Linked DNA regions of Homo sapiens. The protein of the gene in region 1 purifies or fractionates together with the protein of each later gene. This does not show direct contact. Each region holds a gene or a part of one and is shown on either strand. Other genes may lie near its edges.

Evidence for each region.
Region 2: the proteins of ATP1A3 (region 1) and ITM2B purify together in Homo sapiens (co-immunoprecipitation; one large-scale study listed by IntAct). This does not show direct contact.
Region 3: the proteins of ATP1A3 (region 1) and GPNMB purify together in Homo sapiens (affinity purification with western blotting, with the first as the bait; one study listed by BioGRID). This does not show direct contact.
Region 4: the proteins of ATP1A3 (region 1) and RER1 purify together in Homo sapiens (co-immunoprecipitation; 2 studies listed by BioGRID and IntAct, with this or other methods). This does not show direct contact.
Region 5: the proteins of ATP1A3 (region 1) and GPAT4 purify together in Homo sapiens (affinity purification with mass spectrometry; one large-scale study listed by BioGRID and IntAct). This does not show direct contact.
Region 6: the proteins of ATP1A3 (region 1) and ATP6V1A fractionate together in Homo sapiens (co-fractionation; one large-scale study listed by BioGRID). This does not show direct contact.
Region 7: the proteins of ATP1A3 (region 1) and RIMS1 purify together in Homo sapiens (co-immunoprecipitation; one large-scale study listed by IntAct). This does not show direct contact.

The regions. Positions count from the first base shown.
Region 1 is NC_000019.10:41,966,082-41,970,230, forward strand, and holds the end of ATP1A3 (sodium/potassium-transporting ATPase subunit alpha-3), read right to left. Parts: coding exon 4,104-4,149; intron 3,500-4,103; coding exon 3,354-3,499; intron 2,835-3,353; coding exon 2,704-2,834; intron 1,683-2,703; coding exon 1,581-1,682; intron 1,260-1,580; coding exon 1,168-1,259; intron 885-1,167; coding exon 856-884; 3' UTR 501-855; downstream 1-500. UniProt on the Homo sapiens protein: This is the catalytic component of the active enzyme, which catalyzes the hydrolysis of ATP coupled with the exchange of sodium and potassium ions across the plasma membrane.
Region 2 is NC_000013.11:48,239,706-48,243,205, reverse strand, and holds part of ITM2B (integral membrane protein 2B), read right to left. Parts: intron 1-3,500. UniProt on the Homo sapiens protein: Plays a regulatory role in the processing of the amyloid-beta A4 precursor protein (APP) and acts as an inhibitor of the amyloid-beta peptide aggregation and fibrils deposition. Plays a role in the induction of neurite outgrowth.
Region 3 is NC_000007.14:23,260,275-23,263,774, reverse strand, and holds part of GPNMB (transmembrane glycoprotein NMB isoform b precursor), read right to left. Parts: intron 3,320-3,500; coding exon 3,002-3,319; intron 1-3,001. UniProt on the Homo sapiens protein: Could be a melanogenic enzyme.
Region 4 is NC_000001.11:2,394,841-2,398,340, reverse strand, and holds part of RER1 (protein RER1), read right to left. Parts: intron 2,558-3,500; 5' UTR 2,551-2,557; coding exon 2,470-2,550; intron 1,226-2,469; coding exon 1,121-1,225; intron 1-1,120. UniProt on the Homo sapiens protein: Involved in the retrieval of endoplasmic reticulum membrane proteins from the early Golgi compartment.
Region 5 is NC_000008.11:41,612,700-41,616,199, reverse strand, and holds part of GPAT4 (glycerol-3-phosphate acyltransferase 4 isoform 1 precursor), read right to left. Parts: intron 3,356-3,500; coding exon 3,240-3,355; intron 1,815-3,239; coding exon 1,759-1,814; intron 1,238-1,758; coding exon 1,152-1,237; intron 1-1,151. UniProt on the Homo sapiens protein: Converts glycerol-3-phosphate to 1-acyl-sn-glycerol-3-phosphate (lysophosphatidic acid or LPA) by incorporating an acyl moiety at the sn-1 position of the glycerol backbone. Active against both saturated and unsaturated long-chain fatty acyl-CoAs.
Region 6 is NC_000003.12:113,778,035-113,781,534, reverse strand, and holds part of ATP6V1A (V-type proton ATPase catalytic subunit A), read right to left. Parts: intron 2,795-3,500; 5' UTR 2,782-2,794; coding exon 2,700-2,781; intron 486-2,699; coding exon 357-485; intron 1-356. UniProt on the Homo sapiens protein: Catalytic subunit of the V1 complex of vacuolar(H+)-ATPase (V-ATPase), a multisubunit enzyme composed of a peripheral complex (V1) that hydrolyzes ATP and a membrane integral complex (V0) that translocates protons.
Region 7 is NC_000006.12:72,250,050-72,253,549, reverse strand, and holds part of RIMS1 (regulating synaptic membrane exocytosis protein 1), read right to left. Parts: intron 3,221-3,500; coding exon 3,090-3,220; intron 2,630-3,089; coding exon 2,458-2,629; intron 2,336-2,457; coding exon 2,182-2,335; intron 790-2,181; coding exon 718-789; intron 1-717. UniProt on the Homo sapiens protein: Rab effector involved in exocytosis. May act as scaffold protein that regulates neurotransmitter release at the active zone.

The DNA.
Region 1 (4,149 bases):
ATGAAAGTTTATCTCAATAAAAAGAGAGAATAGCGTAGTGACCTAGAACTTTGGACAGCCTTGGTTCAAATCCCAGATTTGTCTCTTCTTAGCTGTGTGCAAATCACTTCTTCTCTCTGTGCACATTTAATGCACACTTAGAAGTGGGCAGAGCACATAGCAGGCACTCAGTGAATCACTGTCATCACCATCATCATCGTCATTGTGTCCCCTGGGTCCTACTCCTATAGGAGAGGCTCCCAGTCACCATCCCACGTCTGCTTCCCTCCCTCTCCCCTGTTCTGATTCCACAATGCCATCGCCTGGTGAATTCAAGCTGCTCTGACTTTCGTGGAGTTGAAAACTCCGTGATTAGATGGCTCTGAGATTCCGTGACTTCCAAGCCAGTGCCAGGCTAAGTTCCTGCAGTTTCGAGAGTCGCCTGGCAGCGCGCCCCAACAGAGGGGATGCTGTCCCAGCCGCAGTCCCCGTCTGGAAAGCAGGCACAACACACACACCGCTTCTCTCTCCCCACTGATATATTTGATAATTGTCCAGAACCAGAGATGGCATCAGCCGGGGGGCTGAAGGGGAGTAAAAAAGAGCCCAGGGAGGTGGCTGGGGCGGGAGGAATGGATAGAGGGGTGAGGAGAGGGAGAGAAACTGACACAGAAAAGAGAGAGGAGAGAGGTTTGGGGCAGGGGAGAGAAGCCAGCCAGAGTGGGGGCGGCAGGAGATAGTGGAGGGGGTGGGGGCCAAGGTGGGGCCACAGGAAGAGAGGGCTCCTCCCCCCAGAATACAAAATTGGGGGGACTGACAGGGGCGGTCCTGGGCCTGGGGGACGGGGAAGAGATGGGCGATGTGGTGGGGCTGAGGTCAGTAGTAGGTTTCCTTCTCCACCCAACCTGGAGAGACAAAGAAGGAAAGAAAGAGACAGAGTAAGAGATGGAGAGAGACAGGCAAGGCGAGCCGCCCAGCAGAGAGAGGGACAGAGAGGGAGAGAGACAAGGAAACCACACAGACAGAGACCCGTGAGAAGACAGAGTGGGTGCCCGGAGAGATGGGAAGAGAGAGAAGAGTGGGAACCAGGTGGCAGAGCCATCCAGCAGGGCGAGGGGAGCCTGGGACCAGCTGCCTGAGACCCTGCTGCCCCCCGCCCCCCTCGGCTGCCTTGCCGAGCTCCCTCACCCCCTGGGTTCCTGCGCAGGATGAGTTTGCGGATTTCGTCGTAGACGAAGATGAGGAAACTGTAGGGGAAGGCACAGAACCACCAGCTGGGCCTGCAGAGGGGAGAGCAGGAGGGCTTGAGTGCGGGGCCCTAACGAGAGGCAGAGTTTCAGGGGACTGGAGGGGACGCAGAGGGGCAGTCTCCCAGGATCCTTCGTGCTCACAGGTGGAGGGTGCCCTGGGCGGGGCTGGGGCCTGGGGTCTTCGGAGTAATCCGTGGTGGGAGCAGCCTATGGGGGAGGCTCGGGGGCATCAGAATGGGGACTGCAGTGGGGACACCAGGGGAGGTGGGGCCTGAGGTTCAGGCTGAGTCTAAGGGAAGGCTCCATGGCAGGCGCTGGTGTGGGCAGGGCTGGGGGCAGCGGGGCACTCACTTGAGAGGGTACATGCGCAGGGCCACGTCCATGCCGGGGCAGTAGGACAGGAAGGCAGCCAGGGCCGTCTCCTCAAACAGCCCGAAGATCAGGATCTTGTTCCTGGAGGCACAGAAGGGCAGGGCTGGGCCCAGAGAGCACCCACCCTGCACCTGCCACCCCGCAGAGACAGGGGGAGGCACAGTGCAGACACCCAGAGACAGCAGCACAGACACAGAGACAGAGAGGCAGAGACATAGGGAGAGACAGAGATGGGGAGACATGCCCCGACAGAGAGAGACAAAGATAGAGGCAGAGCGATGGTGACACAGAAAGAGACAAAAGACAGGGACAGACACAGAGACAGGGACAGACACAGAGACAGACAGGGACAGACAGAGAGACAGACACAGGGACAGACACAGAGACAGGGACAGAAACAGACACAGAGACAGGGACAGACACAGAGAGGCACTGGTATAAAAAGAAAAGGCCAGGGGCACCTCCACCACACACACAGAGGCTGAGAGAGAATCTAGGACACACAGGACCCCTTGAGAGAAAATCAGTGCAGTGGCAAAACCCAAAATGGGCTGGGCATGGTGGCTCACACCTGTAATCCTAGCACTCTGGGAGGCTGAGGCAGGAAGATTGCCTGAGCTCAGGAGTTTGAGACCAGCCTGGGCAACATGGTGAAACTCTACTAAAAATACGAAAAATTAGCCGAGCCTGGTGGTGCGTACCTGTAATCCCAGCTACTTGGGAGGCTGAGGCATGAGAATCGCTTGAACCCGGGAGGCGGAGGTTGCAGTGAGCCAAGATTGTGCCACTGCACTCCAGCCTGGGCAACAGAGCAAGACTCTGTCTCTAAATAAATAAATAAAAATTAGCCATATATGATGGTGCACACCTGTAGTCTCAGCTACTCAGGAGGCTGAGGTGGGTGGGTCACTTGAGCCCAGGAGGTCGAGGCTGCAGTGAGCTATGATTACACCACTGAACTCCAGTCTGGGTGACAGAGTGAGACCCTGCCTCAACAAAACAACAAAAAACCAAAGCAAGGACACAAGAGGAAGTACACAGACAGACAGACACTCGGACAGGACAGATGGCTGTCCAGTCACCATGTGCCCCCGGCCCTCACTTCATGCCCTGCTGGAAGACCGAGTTCCTCCGGGTCTTGCAGATGATCAGATCGGCCCACTGGACGACAACGATGCTCACAAAGAAGGCCGTGTGGCAGGTGAACTCCACCACCTTCCTCTGCTCGTATGTCTGCAGGAGCGGTGACCAGGGCACGGGACGTCAGTTAGTGGCACTGCAGCCCTAGCCGCCACCCCGACGTTCCGGTGCTCTTTGCCCCGCCCCATCCTGCATGGGGTCCTCAGGGCCTCAGGTGTGTCTTCCTTCTGCGGGCTCATAGTCCCGAGGGAGGAGTCAGGAGACGTACAAGGAAGAAGAAAGGTTAATGGTGATCTCACCATCCACCAGGGGCCAGGGAGGAGGATAAGGACCCTGTGGGCCTCCCAAGGAGGACAGACAGCAACTGGGCTTTGAAGGGACAGACAGAGGTGGGGAAGAAGGCCTGGCAGGGCAGAGAGCTCCAGCAGTGGGACACAAGGCTCCAGATGGGCTGGGCCAAGGGCATCCAGGAAGCCCCAGGTGCCCAGCAAAGGCCTTGATGCTGCCATGGGAGACTGAGGGGGCCATCGTAGGAAGTGGCCATGCATGGCTGGAACAGCTCACCCCGGGGATCTTACGGTGGGCAGAGACACAGCACCCTGCCCTACTCACCCACTGCTGCCCGTAACTGTCTTCCAGGTCATTGACGGTGCGGTCATCCCAGTTCAGCCGGATGCCCACCAGGTTGCCGGGCAAGAAGCCATTTTCTGCCAGGATCACAAAGTAAGAGAAGAAGCCACCGAGAGCCTGGATCATTCCTGGAAGGAGGAGAGAGGAAGCCGAGGAGAGGCTCAGATTGGGGCCAGCAGCCAACCCAGGGCACCTCAGAGGGCCCGGAGGCCTCCTTGGAGAGGGGAGTATGCCCTCCTGGCCCTGTTATCTGGACATTGGTTCCCAGAGGGTGACCTGAGGTCTCACTTGGTGGTGAGGCCCTGAGATGGGTGGGCCACCTGGGACAGGGGCTTTGGAGAGAGGGCTCTCCCAGAGGGATAACCTGGAGCCCCTCTCTCACCTGACCTAGGCCACCTAAACATCATGAATTCTTGGGGGATCCCCAGCTTGAGCTCCCTACGCAGGAATGACCTCCCTGGGCCTGGAACCACTGCCATGAAGTCTCTGCTTGCTGGGACAGCCCCCAAGGGTGGCTGCTCCACTCCTCTGGGGATCCGCACACATCAACAGCAGAGAGGAGGAGGTGGAGAAGGATGGGGTGCAGACCCCCCCCACAGATAGCTCACTGGTTGGTCCTGCCCACGTCTGCTCCCCTGAGTCAATGCCAGGGTCCCAAGCACCCACGGTGGGCCAGGCACTGCTCTAGGCCCGGCACTGGGTGGTAAGGAGATGGAGTCCCCGGTGCCTCACCAATCTGCCCGTAGGCCATGCTGATGAGTCTCTCATTGACCAATTT
Region 2 (3,500 bases), on another chromosome or scaffold:
ATGAGTTGCCTCTAAAATTCCTCATGAAGGAGACAATCTTGGAACTTTGAAGAGGACGATCAGAGGATGCCTCATCAATCTTTCTAGACCATCCTGTCTGATCTTAAATTAATGCTAATGGTAATTCAGATGGTTTCCATTATTATCCATTATTAATTATCATTAAGTCAATTTTTAATGTAAAAGGAAATATTCTAACAAATCTTTAAAAAGCTATCAAGATAGCTAAGTTGAAGTTCTAATATTGATTTCCAGTGAAATGTTTGTTTACTTCCTCCTGAAAGCTCAATAAAGCGACAGTAAAGGGATAAAACAAATAAACCTTAAGCCACAAAGAATGAAAATGAATGACAGCAGACAAGTCATGTCAATAAAAATGTTGAAAGCTGAAAGCATAAAAGAAAAAAGAAAAAAAAGATATAAGGAGAAAATCACCAGCCTGTAGACAACCAAAGGGGGAAAAAAAGTCATGTACAAACAAGGAATCAGAATGGCATCACATTAGAAGATAATGGAGCAATGCCATCAAAATGCTGAGAGAAAAATGAATGCTAACCTAGAATTTTACACCCAGATAAATTATCAAATATGAGGATGGAATAACGATTCTGAGACACGTAAGATTTTTTAAAAATTTATCTTTTTCTTCAGATTTATGAAACTGTAGATCTAGCATGTGATAAAGACAAAGGCAATTCTTCCAAGATGATTATGACTCTCAGGACATTTGTATGAGTGCAACCAGTCTGGAATAGAAAACTAATGAATGATGGGCAAGAAATCATCAAAAAAAAAAGAAAGAAAGAAAGAAAGAAACTTGGTAAGTTACCTGGTGAGTTTGAAGACACAGAAAGACAATTATACTGCTGTCAGAGTCTGAGGAATGAATGAGCAGTAAGTATGTAGAAAATTAAGGAACCCTCTCTCCTGCCCCAAGAAGCATGATCAAATTCAGGGAAAATAAAAAGTTGTTATACAAGAATGGAAGTAAAATAAAAGTATACTACAATACTCAAATGTAACTAATGTTTATGTTAATTATAATAAAAAACACTAAATATCAATTTAACCAGAAATTGCTAGAACAGGAGAAGAGATCATGTGTGCAGTGTGTAAATATTCAGAAAAAGCTAAATATTCACCTTCCATGTAGCTATTATCAATAGGTATTATCTAAAACTGCAAAAAATAAAACAAATGAAAACAAACCATGAAACAGCAGTATAAGCAAATATTTAGAATAGATGTTCTGCAAATGTGGTCCAGGAACACACCCGTTCAGGGGGTCCACAAGGTCAAACTTTTTTCATAATAAAACTAAGACTGTGTTAGTTTAAATAATAAAACTGTCATTTTCACTTTCATTCTCTCGCTATGTTTATATACAATAAAAATTGTACAGTGCAATTTTCCAGAAGCTAAGCACCATATCACAACAGACTGAATGAAGAATTTGATAGGAAAATCCGGCTATCTTCTATTAAGCTATTCAATAAAGGGCACTGCCGAATGTAAAACAATGTTACTGTTAGTCTTCTTAAATCTTTTTGGTTATTTGGAAATATATATAACCTACATAAAGCAAAAGCTCTTTGGGATCCTGAACAATTTTTAAGACTATAAAGGAGTTCTCAGAGCAAAATGTTTAACAACCACTGATTTAGAGAAATAGGGAGTTAAAAGAGAAACATGGAGGGCCAGGTGCTATGGCTCAGCCTGTAATCCCAGCACTTTGAGAGGCCGAGGTGGGTGGACCACTTGAGGTCAGGAGTTCCAGACCAGCCTGGTCAACATGGTGAAACCCCGTCTTTACTAAAAATACAAAAATTAGCTGGGAGTGGTGGTGGGCACCTGTAATCCCAGCTACTCGGGAGACTGAGGCAGGAGAATCACTTGAACCTGGGAGGCGGAAGTTGCAGTGAGCCGAGATCATGCCACTGCACTCGAGCCTGGGTGACAGAGCAAGACTCTGCTGCCCGCCGCACCACGCCCTACTGGGGCAAAAAGTGAGAAACATGGAGTTAAGATCGCCATGTATGGTTGGGCAGGTTGTTTCCAGTACAAGGATGCCAGGCCAAGGGAATCAGTAGGTCTAGAAACCAACTGATGCTCTATTCTCCAAACCACCAGAGAGGGGATCTTTTTCTAAATTGCACAAAGGCAGAAGAGGGTCTAGTGGTCACCATGGTAATAAAAGACCATAAGAAGCTAATAAGTGAATATGATTGCTTTGAATTAATCTATGGGGAGAAAAATTAGAATAGTGGTTACCTCTAAGGAGAACAAATTGTAAAAGGACACAAGATAACTTTCTGAGTTGATAACAATGTTCAGCTTGATTGGGAGTTAGAGCCCAGGTATACAGACTTAAAATTATCTAACTGTACACTCATGATCTATGCATTTTACTGTATACAATGATGCTACAATTTTTTTAAAGTATGTTCCTCTGACATAGGGCAGGACTATATATTTGCATATTAAAATTTAGTATTACTTTGGTAAAACTCAAATTCTATTAACACCTATTATGTAATGAATAAATAACATTTTTAAATGAAATCGGTACAGCTACTGAATCCTAAGGGTTTTTATGTTGCAGGAATCAATCTTTACCAGAATGCCTTGCTGTGAAAAAAGTACCAACAATATTGTTACTGACATGTGAGGCAGGGATAAGCAGTAACAGTAATATAAGAAGTAATATTCCAAAACAAGAATGATGAGGAGAGAAAACTGGGACTTTAATAATAGTAGTTGATCAAGAGGTCAGGAGTTCGAGACCAACCGGGCCAACATGGTGAAACCCCGTCTCTATTAAAAATACAAAAAATTAGCCAGGCATAGTGGCAGGTGCCTGTAATCCCAGCTACTTGGGAAGCTGAGGCAGGAGAATCACTTGAACCCGGGAGGCAGAGGCTGCAGTGAGCCAAGATCACACCATTGCATTCCTGCCTGGGTGACAGGGCAAGACTGTTTCTCAACAAAAAAATAAATAAAAATAACAGTAGCTGAAATCTACTAATTTTTAACTCTGTTCCAGGCATTGTGCTATTATTGTTACAGATTATTATTTTCCCTATTTTGCTGATGAAAAAACTGAGACACAGAGAACTGAAGTAACTTACCCAAGGTATCAAAGTAAGTGATAGAGACAAAATTTAAATCTTTTGAAGAATGACTGTATAACCTGAATTCTGCTAGTGCTGCTGCTTCCTGAATAGCAGCAGCCCCTCCCCAACAATTCAGTGAGGGTACTGGGCAAAAAGGAGAAATATCATTCCTTTGATATTTTTCCCAACCATTAAAAAATATAAAAATCATTCTTACCCCATGGGCTACAGAAAAACAGCAGGCAGGCAGTATTTGAAGATATAGGCTATAATTTGCCAGTCCTGCGTTCCACTTTAAAGGAGATTATAAAATAGTGGCCCATGCCTTCAGTGTTTTGGGCTAAAATTGTTGTATAAATTAAAATAGTACTGATTTTTAGCTTGCCT
Region 3 (3,500 bases), on another chromosome or scaffold:
TCCCTCCTCGCTCTCCCTAAGAGAGATGCTGGTTTAAGGCATTTTGGGGTTGATTATGATTGATCTAACACCTTTAGATAAAGCCAGGCAGCTTTCCTTCGCAATAAAACTTAACTAACTTGTAGGGGTTGCTAGTTTATATCTTTTTTTTTTTTTTTTTTTGAGACAGAGTTTCTCTCTTGTCGCCCAGGCTGGAGTGCAATGGCGCGATCTCGGCTCACTGCAACCTCCACCTCCCAGGTTCAAGCGATTCTTCTGCCTCAGCCTCCCAAGTAGCTGGGATTACAGACACTCTCCACCACACCCGGCTAATTTTTATATTTTCGGTAGAGACGGGGTTTCACCATGTTGACCAGGCTGGTCTCGAACTCCTGACCTCAGGTGATCCACCTGCCTCGGCCTCCCAAAGTGCTGGGATTACAGATGTGAGCCACCATGCCTGGCCCACTAGTTTATATCTTATGGTGTCACCTAGGGAGAAATTACAACAGAAATTTTAAATAGCTTTTCATTGGCTTCAAATATATTTTTAAAACATGCTATGATATAAATAGTTTATAAGAAAAACAAGCTAGTTTAATAAAAATGCAATTCAAAGTAGACTAACATTAAACAACCTAACATTAAGTCTTTTACCATTCTGGAACTTAAATATTAAAAGCATCTGTAATTTATTTTGAATTTTATACCTGGTCCTCTTATTTGTAAAGAAGATCATTAATAGTTGTAGATAAAAAAAATTGCTTCTCCTAAAGGATTACTAGAATGAAGCTGTATATTTAAAGTTGTTCAATACAGTTATAATTGTAGTTGGAATTAGGATTAATCTAATCATCCATCAATAAGAGAATGGTGGGCCGGGCACAGTGCCTCACGCTTATAATCCCAGCACTTTGGAAGGCTGGGGTGGGTAGATCACCTGTGCTCAAGAGTTGGAGACCAGCCTGGGCAACACGGCGAAACCCCATCTCTACTAAAAAATAAAAAAATTAGCTGGGTGTGGTTGTGTATGCCTGTAGCCACAGCCACTTGGGAGGCTGAGGCAGAAGGATCACTTGAGTCCAGGAGGTGGAGGTTGCAGTGAGCCAAGATTGTGCCACTGCACTCCAGCCTGGGTGTTAGAGCAAGACGCTGTCTCAAAAAAAAAAAAAAAAAAAAAAAAAAAAGAGAATGGTGAAATAAATGACAGTACATACATTCTATGAAACACTATGCAGCCACTGGATAAAGTGAGATAGACTTATATGTATTAACAGTGGAAAGATGTCTATAATGTTTGTTAAATTAGAAAAAGAGCAAATTGTAAAACAATATGAATAGCCCTCTTGTGTAAATGAACCCATTTACACAACCAAAACAAACCTTATGTGTATATATAGTATATGTTTATAAATGCATAGAAAAATATCTGGAAAGAAATCCTCCCAATTATTAACAGGGTTTAACTCTTGGGAGGAGAGTACGAGTGGGGACTTTTGCTTTTTACTCTAGACATCTACATTGTTTTAATTTTTACTAAGGAACATGCATAAACTTTGTAATTTAAAACATTTTTGAGATAATCGAAATCAGTGATAACTTGTGTTGTCTTGACTTAGATATGCTTGATTTAACAAGCTCTCATTTTATTACTAACATCTTATTGTAAAACTTTATAATTTATAACAAACAGGATTTTGTAAAAACAAGAAGCCCCAGACGTCATGATGGACCGTCGTGGGCTTGGTCCCTGGCGCCCTCTTGTGACCAGTGAGAGGATGTCAGCCTATTGCTATCCCCAGGATCCTGGGGTGCTGAGTGCAACTGGCCCAGTGGGAAAAGGGTGGTGATGGCATGGGGTAGCGTGGGGAATCAGATGGAAGCCAGTGCTACCCAAAGTGGACTCTTAAGGACTTCTTGAATGTCCCCAGACTATTAATATAGGGTGGTATTGAATTAATCATGCCTTAAATGCAGCACAGTTTTATTTTTATTTATTTTTCTCTTTTTTTTAAATTTTACTTTAAGTTCTAGGGTACATGTGCACAAAGTGCAGGTTTGTTACATATGTATACATGTGCCATGTTGGTGTGCTGCACCCATTAACTCGTCATTTACAATAGGTATTTCTGTTAATGCCATCCCGCCTCCCTACCCCTACCCCCCGACAGGCCCTGGTGTGTGATGTTCCCCGCCCTGTGTCCAAGTGTTCTCATTGTTCAGTTCCCACCTGTGAATGAGAACATGCGGCGTTTGGTTTTCTGTCCTTGTGATAGTTTGCTCAGAATGATGGTTTCCAGCTTCATCCATGTTCCTACAAAGGACATGAACTCATCCTTTTTTATGACTGCATAGTATTCTATGGTGTATATGTGCCACATTTTCTTAATCCAGTCTATCATTGATGGACATTTGGGTTCATTCCAAGTCTTTGCTATTGTGAATAGTGCCGCAATAAACATACGATGCAGCACAATTTTAATGTCAGGAGTCACTGCAGCTTGCTAACCCAGACATACTCTCAAGCTACATTCTTTCTTGGACCATTTGGAAATTGCTTTCAAGTACAGCTGTGTTTTCATGGACACTGGGTAGGTGTGGGCAGGGTAGGGAAAGAAATTAGTGGGGGAGAGGAAGGAACATAGAAATGACCTGATCGTATAAGGAGCCAGTGTGCCTTCTCATAGCCATAAAAAATGGGAGATAAACAAAAATGTGACAGGTTAGAAGAGGGGAGAGTGTGTACACATAGCAGGGACCAGTGCAAATGAGGAGGGTCAAAGAACTTTCTACAAGTCACTGAATTCTATTTGCAAAGTGACTTTACATACATTCTTCCTTCTTCTGTGTTCTATAGGTGTAAAATGGTGATAACTTTGCTTTAAAAAATCAACAGGTAGAAAATGGAATCACCGCAGAGTCCTTACAATATCCCCTTAAGGAGGGATTTAATAATATGACCTGCGTGAATATTTTGTTAGCCATTAAGGAGCCTCCCTCAAAGATCACTGCGAAACCTTACCTAAAGAAGGGGTGGGTTTTGAAGGTCTGGGTGGTGGTGGCGGTGGCGGACAAGGTCCTGGTGCTGCAGCTTTCACAGTGAGGTTAAGGCTGAAGGTTCCATTGAGCACATACGTGTGATTCACAGTATGATTGGTGGAAACAAACAGGCCAGTATTATCCCCGAAGCTCCACTTGTAGTTAATGGTAGAATAATTGAGGAAGTGGCTAGGATCATGAATCAGGACATCAAACATAATGGGGAGATCTTTGAGGAAGGTTTCGTCGGATGAATTTCGATCGTTCTTCTGGAACATAGTCACAAACACAGGAATCTGATCTAAAAGATACATCCCCCAAAGAAATAAAGAATGCATGATTGCTTGATTGTAAGTGGAGGGCTTCGACGATGCTTTTAGGTTGAAATATTAAAATGAGGGATAATTTAGCATTATTTTCCTTTTCACATGCAAGTTTTCTGGGGTTTCCCTAAGCTATTCTGGAAAACAGATGAACTACAA
Region 4 (3,500 bases), on another chromosome or scaffold:
AGCTTTTCCAGTCAGACGGCTGAACGCCAGATGTGAGGGCTAACTGATGTCTGTGTGTCCATCCCTGGCTGAACGCCGGATGTGAGGGCTAACTGATGTCTGTGTGTCCATCCTCGGCTGAACGCCGGATGTGAGGGCTAACTGATGTCTGTGTGTCCATCCTCGGCTGCAGGGCCACACCTGAAGAGACGCCAAATGAGGCACGAGCTTGGTTTCGAACGCAATAAAACTGACCTGTGGGTGCTGCACTCTTCCCGCCCCCTGCTCCTGCCTGAAGTCCCTGATTCAAGATTTCTAGGTCATTCTTTCCATCAGAGAATGGACCCAGTTCCAATTTAAAAACAAAAATAAATAAATAAATTAAGGTGTGTGCTTTAAACAAGGAAGTATCTTCTACAGTCCCCAGAGGAGAAAATAGCCCAGACAAGGCTTTCAACATGCCCTGCTCTGCACATAAGATTATGTAACCTCCTCTAAAGACCGACGAAGAATTCCCATCTTACAGGTTTGCTCCTAGAAACCCCGTGTTTACCAGCAAGTAAAGGAGCACCCAGGTGAAGTCTGAGACGACATCACCTGACCTAGGGGTGCCCGAAAACACACGAAGGAAACCCTCAAGACCCCCTTCGGTCACTGTCTCTCTTACTTGACTCGGCGTCTCAACCTGCACTGTGCTTTGGCCTCACACAAGGGAGAGCTCAGGAAAAGCTACATAAACCCTTTGGACGCCGAGTCATTCATGACACCCAAGGCATGGACTCTTCACCCAAGGAATGAGGCAGCCACAGAGCGCAACCTTGTCCTGAGCATCATGCAGCAGGGTCGGAGGGACACCAGCGGCTCCACTGTCCAGGCCTGGACGTGCCCAGGGCAGGGCCAGGCTGGGCTCAGGACGGCCTGGGTATACTGAGAAGCCTGGCGAGGCGACTCCGGGTGAATCATAAACAACCCTGTTCGTTAAAGACAGTCACTGAGATCTTTCTGACATTTGGCGTTTAGCTGAAAATTGATTACTAGAGACCACTTCCTGCAAGACAGACTGGATCAACAACATCCCCACAAACATCACGCCCAGGTAACGTGGACAGAGCCAAGTCTCGTCACTTCAGCCCACACCTACCTGCAGCAGGTAAACTCGAATCATGTAGACAAAGCTCAGGCCCAGTGTCACGACCCATCGCACAGCCGTGTAGGGTGTGGACTTGTCTAGCCAGGACTGATAAATCTAGAAAGACAAGAGTCCAAAAGCATGAAGCAGGTCCTGTAACTTCTGTACTGACCCTGCCACAAAATGTACCTTCTGCTAGGGTTGGCTTTCAATTTTTAAAACAGCTAAAAGAGTGAGTTAAAATAGCAAGAGATCATCTATGTATCAGCACAAAGAAGTGACTACAATTAATCCAAAGTTTATTTTCAATAATTCCTGAAGCAGGTTCATCTCTTAAGCAAGACTATTACAAAACAATCTCCTAGGAGACTGTGACATTGTGCTGGCCCCAAGGGATCACTATGGGGAAGACCCAGCCTCACCCCAAAGAGAGGACTGTGCATCTCAAAGTCCCCACCCTACAGCACAGCCCTTATCGTCACATCTCAAGTCAGCTCCCCCATCTGCAGCAGCCAGCAGCCAGCCTTGCCCCGCTCCCAGGCCCACTGGCCACAGCCTGAGCCCCAGCAGCCACACCCACATGTGTGTGCGTCCAGGCGGCTGTGGACATGACCGAAGGAGCCCTTAGTTTTATGTATTTATTTTTACAAATATACATATGTATGGTTTTTTATTTTAATTTAGAAATTTAATTTTCAAATTGTGAGAAATTTCCAAATTCACAAAAGTAAAAAGATTATAGAAGCTTACATATGCCTGTCACCCAACTTCATTAATCGCCAATCGCTTTTCATATGTGATTTAATTAAGGTGATGAATTTTTATTTGAGCCGGATCCTCAGCACCTGGAACTGCCGGTGACCCAAGCTTTTCCTGACAGAGGTTCGGACTCCAGCGTTCAAAGGCAGCTCTAGGTCCCTCACTCACCAAGCAATGCACACGCAGCCCACACAAGAGCCTCTCACCCTCAAGGACAGAACCGCCGAGCTGACACGGGGCAGGTGGGGCTACCAGCACCGGGGACGTGGGTGGCTGGGAGAGGGACAGCAAGAGCAGAACGGCAGCCACGGCCGCATCTGTCCTGCCTGGGAGCTGAGACTGGGTTTTATATTTTTAAAGCTTGGTAAAAGGAAAACAGAAACAGAAAACGCATATGTTTGATAGACCACGTGTGGCCCCAGAGCCCGATCTCTCCACAGCTGGCCCTTCACAGTGAAGAGAACGCTGTCTTCAGGAAGTTTGAGCCTGAGGCGAAGTAACTTCTCCATCAGGAACACCAGCAAACAGATCCTTCCCGAAAATGCTGGGAGTCCCGTTTCTTTTTCAAATATTTATACTCATCTACTAAAAAACCCACCAACCTGTCCAAGTCTTGTGAAAAATCTGTACACCACCGAAGGTTTCCCATGGACGGATTCTCCCACACTGTCCCCTTCAGACATTCTGTAACTGGGAGAAAAACACAAAATACTTTTCAGTAAAAAGCATTCACGGGTGTGAAATCCTGGCCCTATTTTCACCAACACTGTCAAGTAGGTTTCTTCCACATTCAGTATTTTGTCCATATACCATTTGTGTTTTTACCATGAATTGTTCGGGAAAAAGTAGCAGGTACACAGGCTTCCCTGGAGAGGAAGGGCAGCGTGAGACGCATGGGCCCAGGAGCACAGGCCGCATTTTCATTCCCACACTGGCACCTCAGTCACCTGCGTGGGCGGGACTGTCCACCCCACTGGCCCCAGGAGCAGCCTTGCTGGCCATGGGGTCCACTGGCTGGTCCATGGCACGTGGCACTGCATGTCCTCCCTCCAAGGACCGCACCCTCTGTGGATCCCTCAGGGTTCCCCCGCCCAGGCACCTTGTCTGCTCCACGCCCTGTCCTGGGTCTCTGGTCTGGCAGGAGCAGGAGGGATCCTGTCCTCTCAGGGCCAGGTCCTCCACCCCATGAACAGGAAAATGTTATCTACAACTCTCAGGTAGTCCATCCATCTGCGTCCCAGTTTCTTATCTGGCAAGCGGAGGTAACGTATCTGCTCCTATTTCAACACTGCTGTGATGCCATGAGGAATTCACCTGAGAACCCAGGTGCCAGAGGTCACATTGTTCACCCACTTAATTCCCAGATGCTCAAGTGAAGGGCATCATGACCCCCATTTCACCAAGTCTCAAACAGTGGAAGCCACGTGTCCAAGGTCCTGCCACAGCCCTGCTTCTGGGCAGGCCAAGCCAAGCCTGACTGCCACCTGGCTCCTCAGCTGAGCACGCCGCCACCCCACTCCTGAGAGGAGACGGCGTCAGGACCTGCCGCTCTTCGGTAAAGCACAGCTCAGTACCCAGGGCCTGCCGGTTGTCATTCCTACTTTAAAGATGAGAGGCCTCCTGGCCCCTGAGC
Region 5 (3,500 bases), on another chromosome or scaffold:
AGGCAGCAGTAAGGGCTTCCATCCAGCATCACGGTCACACTGCAAAGCACCTGTCCTCGTTTTGCCAGAATGCAGGATGCAGATGCCAGTCCCCACTCCCACACCCAAGGCAGACTCTGCTAACAGACTATGTTCCTCTTTCCTGCTGTTTCCAGACACAGCATCCTCAGGCTCTGGTGAGTCCTAGCCTGTCAATCAGAGTCCCCTGCAGGCAATATTCATCTGCCATCCCTGGCCTGGTCCTCTGCCTAAATGATAAACAGTGAGTGGCTGGTGAGCATCGGCCTCACCAGGAGCAACACCTCTCCAGTGGCACTGGCAAGGTGAAAAGAAAGTCAGAACCAACTCTACAGAATGCTCTGCAGACAACCCAGTCCCCTACAAAAGAAATTCTAAGTGTGAGCCTGACTCATATCTGCTCACCATTTTATCGAGCTCTCAGGCTGCAGCCTAAATACTTTAACCACACTGAGGATGGCCTGTGTTTTGTAGGTGTCATGATGTGAGGCCTGGTGGATGTGAAGAGGGTAAGAGCGGGGAGGAACAATGTGCAGATGACTAGCTAATCACATCCTATAGCTCTGGGTGTCTGAAGGGTTAGAGGAGCAGTTCCTAAAGGGTCGACGTAGACTAGATAAACTCCCAGGGTCCATCTCATTGTTAGGAGCTGTTGTAGGTCTAAAAGATGACACAACTAAAAGCAGTGAAGCTGTTTCTCCCACTGGGCTGGAGTAATGACCCCCCCCCCAATCCTCATGGCTCCCCCAAAATGCAAAAATCCAGCTTAAAACCACACCACTGTGCCCTGCAATCAGCCAGCTTTCCATGTGGAGGGGCCTACATTCCAGCTAGGTTTATGAAGCAAGGTAATAAGTGAAGGGCTTGCCATTTCCCGAATGGTGGCGGCAGCAGCATGCAGGCGGGAATCTGGCTGTCCCCCATTCCACACTCCCCAGGCCCTTCTAAGGGGTGCTGAGCACTCACCATCCTCCTCCGGCAGCACTTGACCCACGTCAACCCAGCCCCACGCCACTCTGCTGAGGGCATCGACCACAGACTGGTGACCCCAGCTCCTTCCTCTACCTCCTCCTGCTGCACCCCACTCACAGCAGCTCCAGTAATGACAGTGTGTACCATCGGAGGTCTTATACCTTGATAGCAACAGGGTAAACTGTGGCTCCAATTTCAAAACTTCCCTTTTTGAACATCATCACCGATGTATTATTGATGCAGGTTCCTAAAATGCAGGAGACAATAAAATGCTATTTCTGTTGGCCCTTTACCCCAGATATTAGGCGTTTCTTAAAGACTAAGTATAATAGTCAAAATTCTTCTAATGGTTCCTCCAGTAAGATACATCTGTCATCTCCCTAACTTAAAAACAAACACTTAACAGAGACAGGCAAGATGGTGCCTCCGATTCTCTTTCTACAGGACCACTTTCCCTGATTCATACACACAGCCTAGATAAAGCAGAGACGCGCAGTGGCCTTAGGAGGACACCATGAGCTCTGTGAGGAGCTGAAACATTACAGAAGAAATTCCTGCATTTGGGGAGTTCACACTATGGCATTCTTAGTTCAAATTCTGAACTTACCTGAGTTTTTAGTCCTACTTCCAACCTAAAGGGGACCTAACATTATTCAGTGAAAACAGATAACCCCAACAAGGGCTGAGGGCCTTGGTTCCCAGGAAACATCAGCATCACACTCCTGCACTCCCCACAGAAGCCCTTCGTGGCAACCAACCCCTTCTTACCTTCTGGGAAGATGAGGATAGGCAGCTTGCTTTTATCTTGCACATGTTCAGTCAGTCTTTCAAAGAAGAAAATAAAATAAAGGGTCAGACAACCTTATACACATCGTCAAAATATGTTTATAAATAACCTATTTATTTGTGACACTAGTTTCGATTATAAAAAGTTAACAAGCATAACTGTATCCTTTTAAACCCATAATCTAATGCTCATCAAGAAAAAATGTATATGGATAGAGAAAAATCAGGTTACCATTTAATTCACAGAACTGTTCAATTCTGTGCGAACATCGGAGCACCAATGATGCCACTCAACCTGGGGGCCACCTGAAAGAGACACCTGCCACAAGGCCTGGGCATGGCCCCCTCAATAAACCTGTGTCACTAGACTATGTAACAGTTGTGAGGCTGGGCCCAGCCCTGCTGGCTCGATGCTCTGTCCCTGAGATGTAGCAAAGGGAGTTAGGGGAGAGTTCATCTGTCTCTATGGAAGATAATCTCAACTGTCTTTTCTTATGTGTTATTTTTTGAGACAGGGTCTCCCTGTGTTGCCCAGGCTGGAATGCGGTGGTGCAATCATAGCTCACTGAAGTCTCACCCTCCCTGGCTCAAGCGATCCTCCCACGTCAGCCTCCCAAGTAGCTGGGACTACAGAAGCGTACCACCACGCTCAGCTAATTTTTAAATTTTTTGTAGAGATGGGGGTCTTCCTATGTTGCCCAGGCTGGTCTCGAACTCCCGGGCTCTCAAAGCACTGGGATTACAGGCCTGAGCCACCATGTGTGGCTTGGTCTCAACTGTCTTGATGTCTCTGTCTGCTGCAAATCTCTTTGCATTACTTACAGCAGATTCACCTTCTTAAAGTTTGAAAACAGGGCAGTACTTTGTTCCACTGCCTTAGGTTTCTTTTTATTTGTGATAAATGAATTCATTTTGAGGTTTCAAATAGCAGTAAAAATTCGTATTTTGTTTATTATGATGGGTACAATGAATTAAAAAAAGGTTAAGAAACATTATTAACTTGGTAAATAATACTAGGGTTTCTATACTTTTTTTTTTAAGACAGAGTCTCATTCTATCGCCCAGGCTGGAATGCAATGGCGCGATCTCAGCTCACTGCAACCTCTGTCACCCTGGTTCAAACTATTCTCCTGCCTCAGTCTCCCTAGTAGCTGGGATTACAGATGCCCGTCAATAATTTTTGCATTTTTAGTATTTTGTATTTTCACCATGTTGGTCAGGCTAGTCTCAAACTCCTGACCTCAAGTGATCCGCCCACCTCGGCCTCCCAAACTGCTGGGATTACAGGCATGAGCCACCACACCCGGCCACTTTTAAAATTTCATGTTTTAGGAAAAAATTATTATGAAAGCAGTATAGGCTTATGATAGAAGGCACGTAACTGCACTGTGGAGGGATAACTACCCTGAAACCTTTTCAGCATTCTAACTGGCCAAGCAGAACAGCAGTGTTCTGTCCATTACCTCTTAGCCACCAGGTGGCGATCCTTCACTTCCGAGCGCTCAAACCAGACGTGTGGGCAGGCCTTCACCATGGCTCTCTGAATCACACCCATGAGTCCCCCGTGCACTTGACCCACCTAAGCGCAGGCACAGGACTCATTAGTAGTGAAGCCATCTTCACACGAATCTCCCCACTCTAGGAAGAACCACATCTCACAAAATAAGCAGTCCAACTTCTCACTTCTAACGCTTGCCGGCTGAAGGTTGCTCACTGCCAAGAAA
Region 6 (3,500 bases), on another chromosome or scaffold:
TTTTTTTTTTCTTTTCTGAGATGGAGTCTCACTCTGTTGCCCAGGCTGGAGTGCAGTGGTGCGATCTCTGCTCACTGCAACCTCCCACCTCCAGGGTGCAAGCGATTCCCCTGCCTCAGCCTCCCAAGCGGCTGGGATTACAGGCGCCTGCCACTATACCCAGCTGATTTTTGTATTTTTATTAGAGATGGAGTTTCACCATGTTGGCCAGGCTGGTCTCAAATTCCTGACCTCAGGTGATCCACCTGCCTGCCTCCCAAAGTGCTGGGATTACTTTGTGTGAGGCACTATGCCTGGCCTAAATCCTTAAATTTTGAAATATAGAAAGTGGCAGGAAATTGAGCCAAAAAGGATACAAGTTTCTTCATACACCTGAATAGTAGCCATGTCACCCTCCAATCGAATAATCTCTCCAACCAATTCGCTGTGGCCCACTCTCACCAGCTCATACATGGCTGCACCCGCCATGTCACAGGCTGTAACCACTGAAGAGAACAAAAGACTATTTTGATGACTTAAGACTCTAGTGCTCTGTGAATAGTCACAAATAATTAAAACACCCAATAAACCCAGTATTGTGCCTCTCTCATATATTCATAAGAAGGATAAAAACCTACTATGGAACATACTGGTAGTTTCACATAGATATATATTTTAGTGTATAATATAAAGAGGTAAGCCAAAGATTATTTATTTACATAATATACATGAAAACTTTTCAAACATTTCAAGTTCTGCATGGCAAACTTACCTGGTAGGATTCAGGTATGTTCTGAGAGTTGCTATGATACATGGAGTGAAGGCTTTGGAACAATAAAAAAAACTTTTAAAAGTAGAAATTGGAATAAATGGTTTGGCTAGTAGTATGGTAGAATGCCACACAATTATCACTTCGCTGTGCTGTTACCATTTCCTTTGAGAGACAGACCTAAAGCAACATGTTTACTTTCTAATAACTTATAGCAGTAGTTCTTAAAACTCTTCTGGGACATGGACCCTTTTCAAAAACTAATAATAGCTCTACTAGAAAAACTCACACACACATCTACAAAATTTTTTTCATAGGCCGTAAGGATATTTATAATCAGTCACCACCATTGGGTAAGAAATTGTCAATGGAATTCCATTTACTGAACTTACTATTTTGGACCATGTGGTCTAGTAAGCAAAAATTACTTTTCTAGCAGGGAAGGAAGGTTGCCATATTTTTAGACACGTGTAAGAATAAACCAATTTTTAATATTTAGCCTTCTGATACAACTGATTAGAACTATGTTATAGGTAATACTTCAGTGGAAACTATTAAAGCTTTATGAGTTAATTAACCTGTGTAAAAACAATGAAGACTTATTCATTCTATAAATATTTACCTCTATGCCGACTACTTAAGAATTAAGATGCACTGAAATACCAGAGATAATGAAATTTAAAAATCATATTTCATAAGCCAAAAAAGGATGCCATTGTTCCATTACCTTATTAAGTACTTAAGAATTAAAAATTGCAGGAGGCAAGGGGAGGGAGAGCATTAGGACAAATACCTAACGCACGTGGGGCTTAAAACCTAGGTAACAGGTTGATAGGTGCAGCAAGCCACCATGGCACATGTATACCTATGTAACACACCTACACTTTCTGCACATGTATCCCAGAACTTAAAGTAAAATTTAAAAAAATTTTTAAAATAAAATAAAAATTGTTTCCAGGAGCAGTTTACTACACAGTTTCACAGAATATTTTTTCCTAAACTCTCTGATGTTCTTTTGCCTTTTCTCTAAAGGTTCTTGGGTTTAGTCTGTCCATCCTGAAGACCCTTATGATCATTGAGAGGACAATTATTTCTCTGCATGGCAAAAGATACTGATAACCTTTTAATGACCTGCCAATGAAATCAAGCTCAAACACCAAGTTCTTGGGGGAGAAAAAAGAGGCACAGTGACTGACAGTCTTCATTTGCGTAAACATCAAAAAACTGTCATCACCACTACTCTAACTAGAACAAGAAAAAGACTATATAGCATGAGGTTTTAAGGATAATACATCACTGACCAGGTTTTACTTAGAGAAACTGTGACTGTGAATCACATTGTGTAGTGGGAGTATTCAATAACAAAACAAATACTGGCGTAAGATTTATTATTTAAAAAGCAGCACTCCATGTTTTGGCAGAATGGACATAAAGTTTGGGTCCTAAGACTTCTTTCCCACAGGTAGTTAATAATGTGACACTTAAAATAACCATTCAAAAAGTTTCATAAATGCAAAGGGCAAAAGCTAATATTGCTGAGAAATGCTCTGAGCGTTTGAATTATTAAAGTTCAAAGCAAATTAACATTTACTGAATGCCTGCTATATGCAAGGTATTACATATTAAAAGCTATAAACTTCATAGTTTATTTACCTCAAATTTAACAAAAAATTAAGACATATAAAACTGAACACTGGTTGAACATTTACATAATTATAAACAGGATATCACAAAGTAGTACCTCAATAATTATAAAATTTAGATAATCAATGCTAGATGAGCCCTTATGACAGAGATTCTACTTCGGTCTTATAGTCACTATGAGATCGCCTAAGGACAAACAGAATTTATGCAGGTAAACAGAAAGTTGTATATTTCTATGTAAAATATTTTGAAAAGACATTAATCAAAGTTAGATATCCTTATTTTGAGATTATGATGTATTACTTACCAGGTCCTGAGACCCCATGCACATAACCAAATGTGCTTTCTTTATCTTCATCGAGTATTTTGGGTAGCTTGGAAAAATCCATAATGTTAGTTTACCTATAGTAAATAAATAAATAAATAAGTTATAATTATAAACCGTAAAGCAAAAGACCCAAAATATAGGTAGTCCACTAAGATGAGACCACTCTCATCTTTGGTGTATTCTTGAGTTATTATACTTCTTCAAAGTAGAATAAAAAAATTCCTTTTCTTAATTTAAAAAAAATTTTTAAGAGGCTCTCTGTCACCCAGGCTGGAGTGTGGTGGTACAGTCATAGCTCACTGCAGCCTCAGACTCCTGGACTCTAGCGATCCTCCTGCCTCAGCCTCCCAAGTAGCTATGACTACAGGTGTGTACCACCATGCCCAACTAGTTTTTTGTTTGTTTGTTTGTTTGTTTTTTTGAGACAGAGTCTAACTCCACCACCCAGGCTGGAGTGCAGTGGAAGGATCTCTGCTCACTGCAACCTCTGCCTCCCGAGTTCAAGCAATTCCTGTGCCTCACCCTCCAGGGTAGCTGGAATTACAGGTGCACGTGACCATACCTGGCTAATCTTTGTATTTTTAGTAGAGACAGGGTTTTGCCACGTTGGCCAGGCTGGTCTCAAACTCCTGACCTCAAGTGATCCACCCACCTCAGCCTCCCAAAGTGCTGGGACTACAGACGTGAGCCAGCCACTGAACCCAGCCAAAATTCCTAAAATGTAGTTAAAAGTACCCTATTCCTGGATGCTGGATGGTTTTATCACAACTGAATTATATC
Region 7 (3,500 bases), on another chromosome or scaffold:
CTCTCATTAGTAAATTTTTAAAAAGTATAGAATTAGTGCCAAGAAAGTAAGTCTTTACCACTTGATTTTACACTTTTCTGACAGAAGTCAGATGAGAAACATTTAAACCCTACAACATCACAAAAGTTTTACTAACTTACACAATGACAAAGAGATGTTCACTTCAAATTAATACTTAATCTTTCTTAAACATATTATTGTATTAAAACATATACACACATTCTAGGTATAATCAGTGGGAACACATCACAAAAGCTTTAAAAGTTACAGCCATGCCACATGCAATTTTAAACCCCGCCATGCACCTTTCTCAGTATATTCCATGGAGGGCTACATTATTTTCAGAAATGGTGGAAGGAAAATCATAGAAATGCAAATATAAAACACAGAAAAATGGAATTTTTATTTAATAACCCCATCTTTTCAAAATAAAATTCGTATTTTCACTTACGCTCAGAGCATTGTGAAATAATGATTTGTTTCACTAGTTAGACATGTTTCTACGGAAGAACCTCACTATGGGAATGCTAATTAGTAGAGACTAGTCCATTTAAAACTTTCTTAATAATTTGAAATGTAAGTCACCATGGAATAATATAATACTGATTTCTCTGTGCTATAAATCTTCAGTTTAGTATCCTAAAGAGGTCCGGAAGCTGACAGAGAAAACAAGCAAAGCAGCACAGTGAAGCAGGGTCATGCTCCTCACCCACGCACCTGGAGGAACTACGCCAATACCATCATCAACCTCATAATCTGAGATGTCACTATCACTGATTCGCTGAGATCCTGCACAACAGTAAGGCAAAGAGATACTTCTGTGTCTGGTTGGTTTATGAAACGTAAAGAGCACTGTCAAACTTTTTTTAAAAAGTGAATTGCATTATTACTGAAAACTTATGAAGACTAATACAGTAAACACTGAGCTAATTTTAAAAGAAATGTTTGTTCTCTAAGGATAACATTTTATCAGTATTTTTTTCCTCATTACACCAAAGACATATAGAAACAAGGGGACTTCACAGAATAAGATTTTCAGATTAATTCTTTAATTAAAATATTATACTAAAAGCCTTCAGCACAGTATATACAGTACATTGTTTTCTACACAATTAAGTGCTTTCCTCTGCAGTTCAGAGAGAATAGGGCTGAGTGGAAAGGTTCAGAGACATTTCTTGGCTGGAGCTCTATTCAGCCTATATTAATGAAAAAACATCAGGGCCCTTTATAAAATATTTATGTTTAGCTCCCCAAATTAGTCATTATACTTCATTAAACATTAACTTTGAGGAAATTACTGATCAGGGAAGCATCAACATGAAATATTTAATTATGTGAGAAAAATAATTTAGTTCCAGATTACCAAAATGAGGCTTCTTTCAGCTGTTAACTTAGAAATGTAGTTATGACACAAAAATTACTCAATAAGTACAGAAAAAAATAGCTTTTCCCAATCACTAGATGAATAGCAATAAACATACCTTCTAATATTTTAAACAACATTTCTTATGAATAACTATTAAAATATCTATGAACTGGCTGGGCATGGTGGCTCACACCTGTAATCCCAGCACTTTGGGAGGCCGAGCCGGATGGATCACAAGGTCAGGAGTTCAAGATCAGGCTGGCCAAAATGGTGAAACCCCATCTCTACTAAATATACAAAAATAAATTAGCCAGGCATGGTGGCGCACTTCTGTAATCCTAGCTACTCCAGTGGCTGAGGCAGGAGAATTGCTTAAACCCGGGAGGTGCAGGTTGCAGTGAGCCGAGATCACGCCAATGCACTCCAGCCTGGGCAACAGAGTGAGACTCTCTCTCGGTGGGGGGAGAAAAAATCTTTGAACTATAAAGTTATTAAGACTTCACAGGTGGCAACTCACCAGTGATGACAGAAATTATTCCATCAGTCAATAACCAACAGCTCAATTGGCCCTGTGCAAGAATTTTAATTCAGAGGTTTTTGGCTTGCAGCTCTGCAATTACTCTGCTATGCTATCTACATTATTTTCATTGTGAAAATGTAGAAACAGTTTTGCCAAGTTGCTTCATAAAGATGAACAATTTTCCAGTATTTTGATCTCTAATAAAACATTTAAAAAAAACATCTTGAATTATTAATCACTAATTAGATCATTACAGCATAATTACTTTGTGGCAACTAAAAGGACCTTAACCTACTTTGTAGCTTTTTGCTAGAGCTTTCTCCATGAATATGTCGCCTTGGCATGAAAGGTGATGGCTGAGGCAGAGGTAGTGAAGACTCATCATGTGTCTGAAGTTTATACCAATGCGGTTCATCATCTAAAAGCGCTGTCTCCAATTCTATGAGGATCTGAGAGGGTAATTCTCAAATTAAATCAAGTACCTTTATCAAAACATAATGTAATAGTAATCATAATAAATATCACAAAACTTTATTAACTATTTGACTTGAGTTTTTAAAATATACATCACCTCTCCAAGAAATTCACTTTCTTCTTCTTGCACTCTTGGTTGGTCCCACACAGTTATTTCTAACATTCGTTCTCTAAAATCTCTACGATGTACATGTGAATAGACAAAAGTTTGATTCCATTTTGGTTCTAGTATTTTCTTTACTGTTTTGGTCCTCCTTTTACTTTTATCACTGAAAAATAAGTATGTTTTGTAAATGAAAAAGCAAGTACATGCTGCCATCTACTGTAGTTACATGTAAAACTGCCATTGATATTTATATTATTTTAACTAATAACTCATGGAAAGTCTATAAAAAGATAATAGAGTTTAATAATATTCTAACTTCAGTTACAATATAAGCAGTATTGTAATTATAGGGACACATACAAAGGTACATTCTAAATGATGTGTCGCTATCAAAGACTAATATACCTATAAACAAGGTAATAGATTTTTTTAATTGACAGATTATTTTCAAATATTTCCAACACAATTTCCAACACTTGAGGGACTTCTTTTTTCAGAGATAATGTACTTTTATCTCCTCAGAATTATCTATTATATTTTTTAAAAACATCCCAAAAGAGAAAATTCTACCTTTTCTATTAGTACAGATTTTAAGATTTTTTTTTTCTAAAATTATTCACTACCTTCTATCTGGAAGAAAATACATTTTTACATAGGGATTTCGAGGACGTCCATCTACTCTAGCAGGTAGATCTGTTGCTTGCAGAACATTTACAATCAGCTGGTGTCCCACTTTATCATACCACAACTTCACCTAGGAGCAATGAGGAAAGGAATTATTTGTAAAAATCATGAGGCATTACAATTTTACATAAAACAAAATTCAAGTTATATTTAAATGAGGAAATTTTGAATTACAATATAATGCAATTACAGATATTTCTAAAAACACACCAATTTGAAAGCATAAACACACAGAACTTTACTTTTCTCTTTGAGTACTTTAAACATAACCTACAACTGGCAGGCCTTCAGTGTTACTGTATATTCTCACATATCATTTTATAAAATAAAACTAATAATAATTTTTCCAA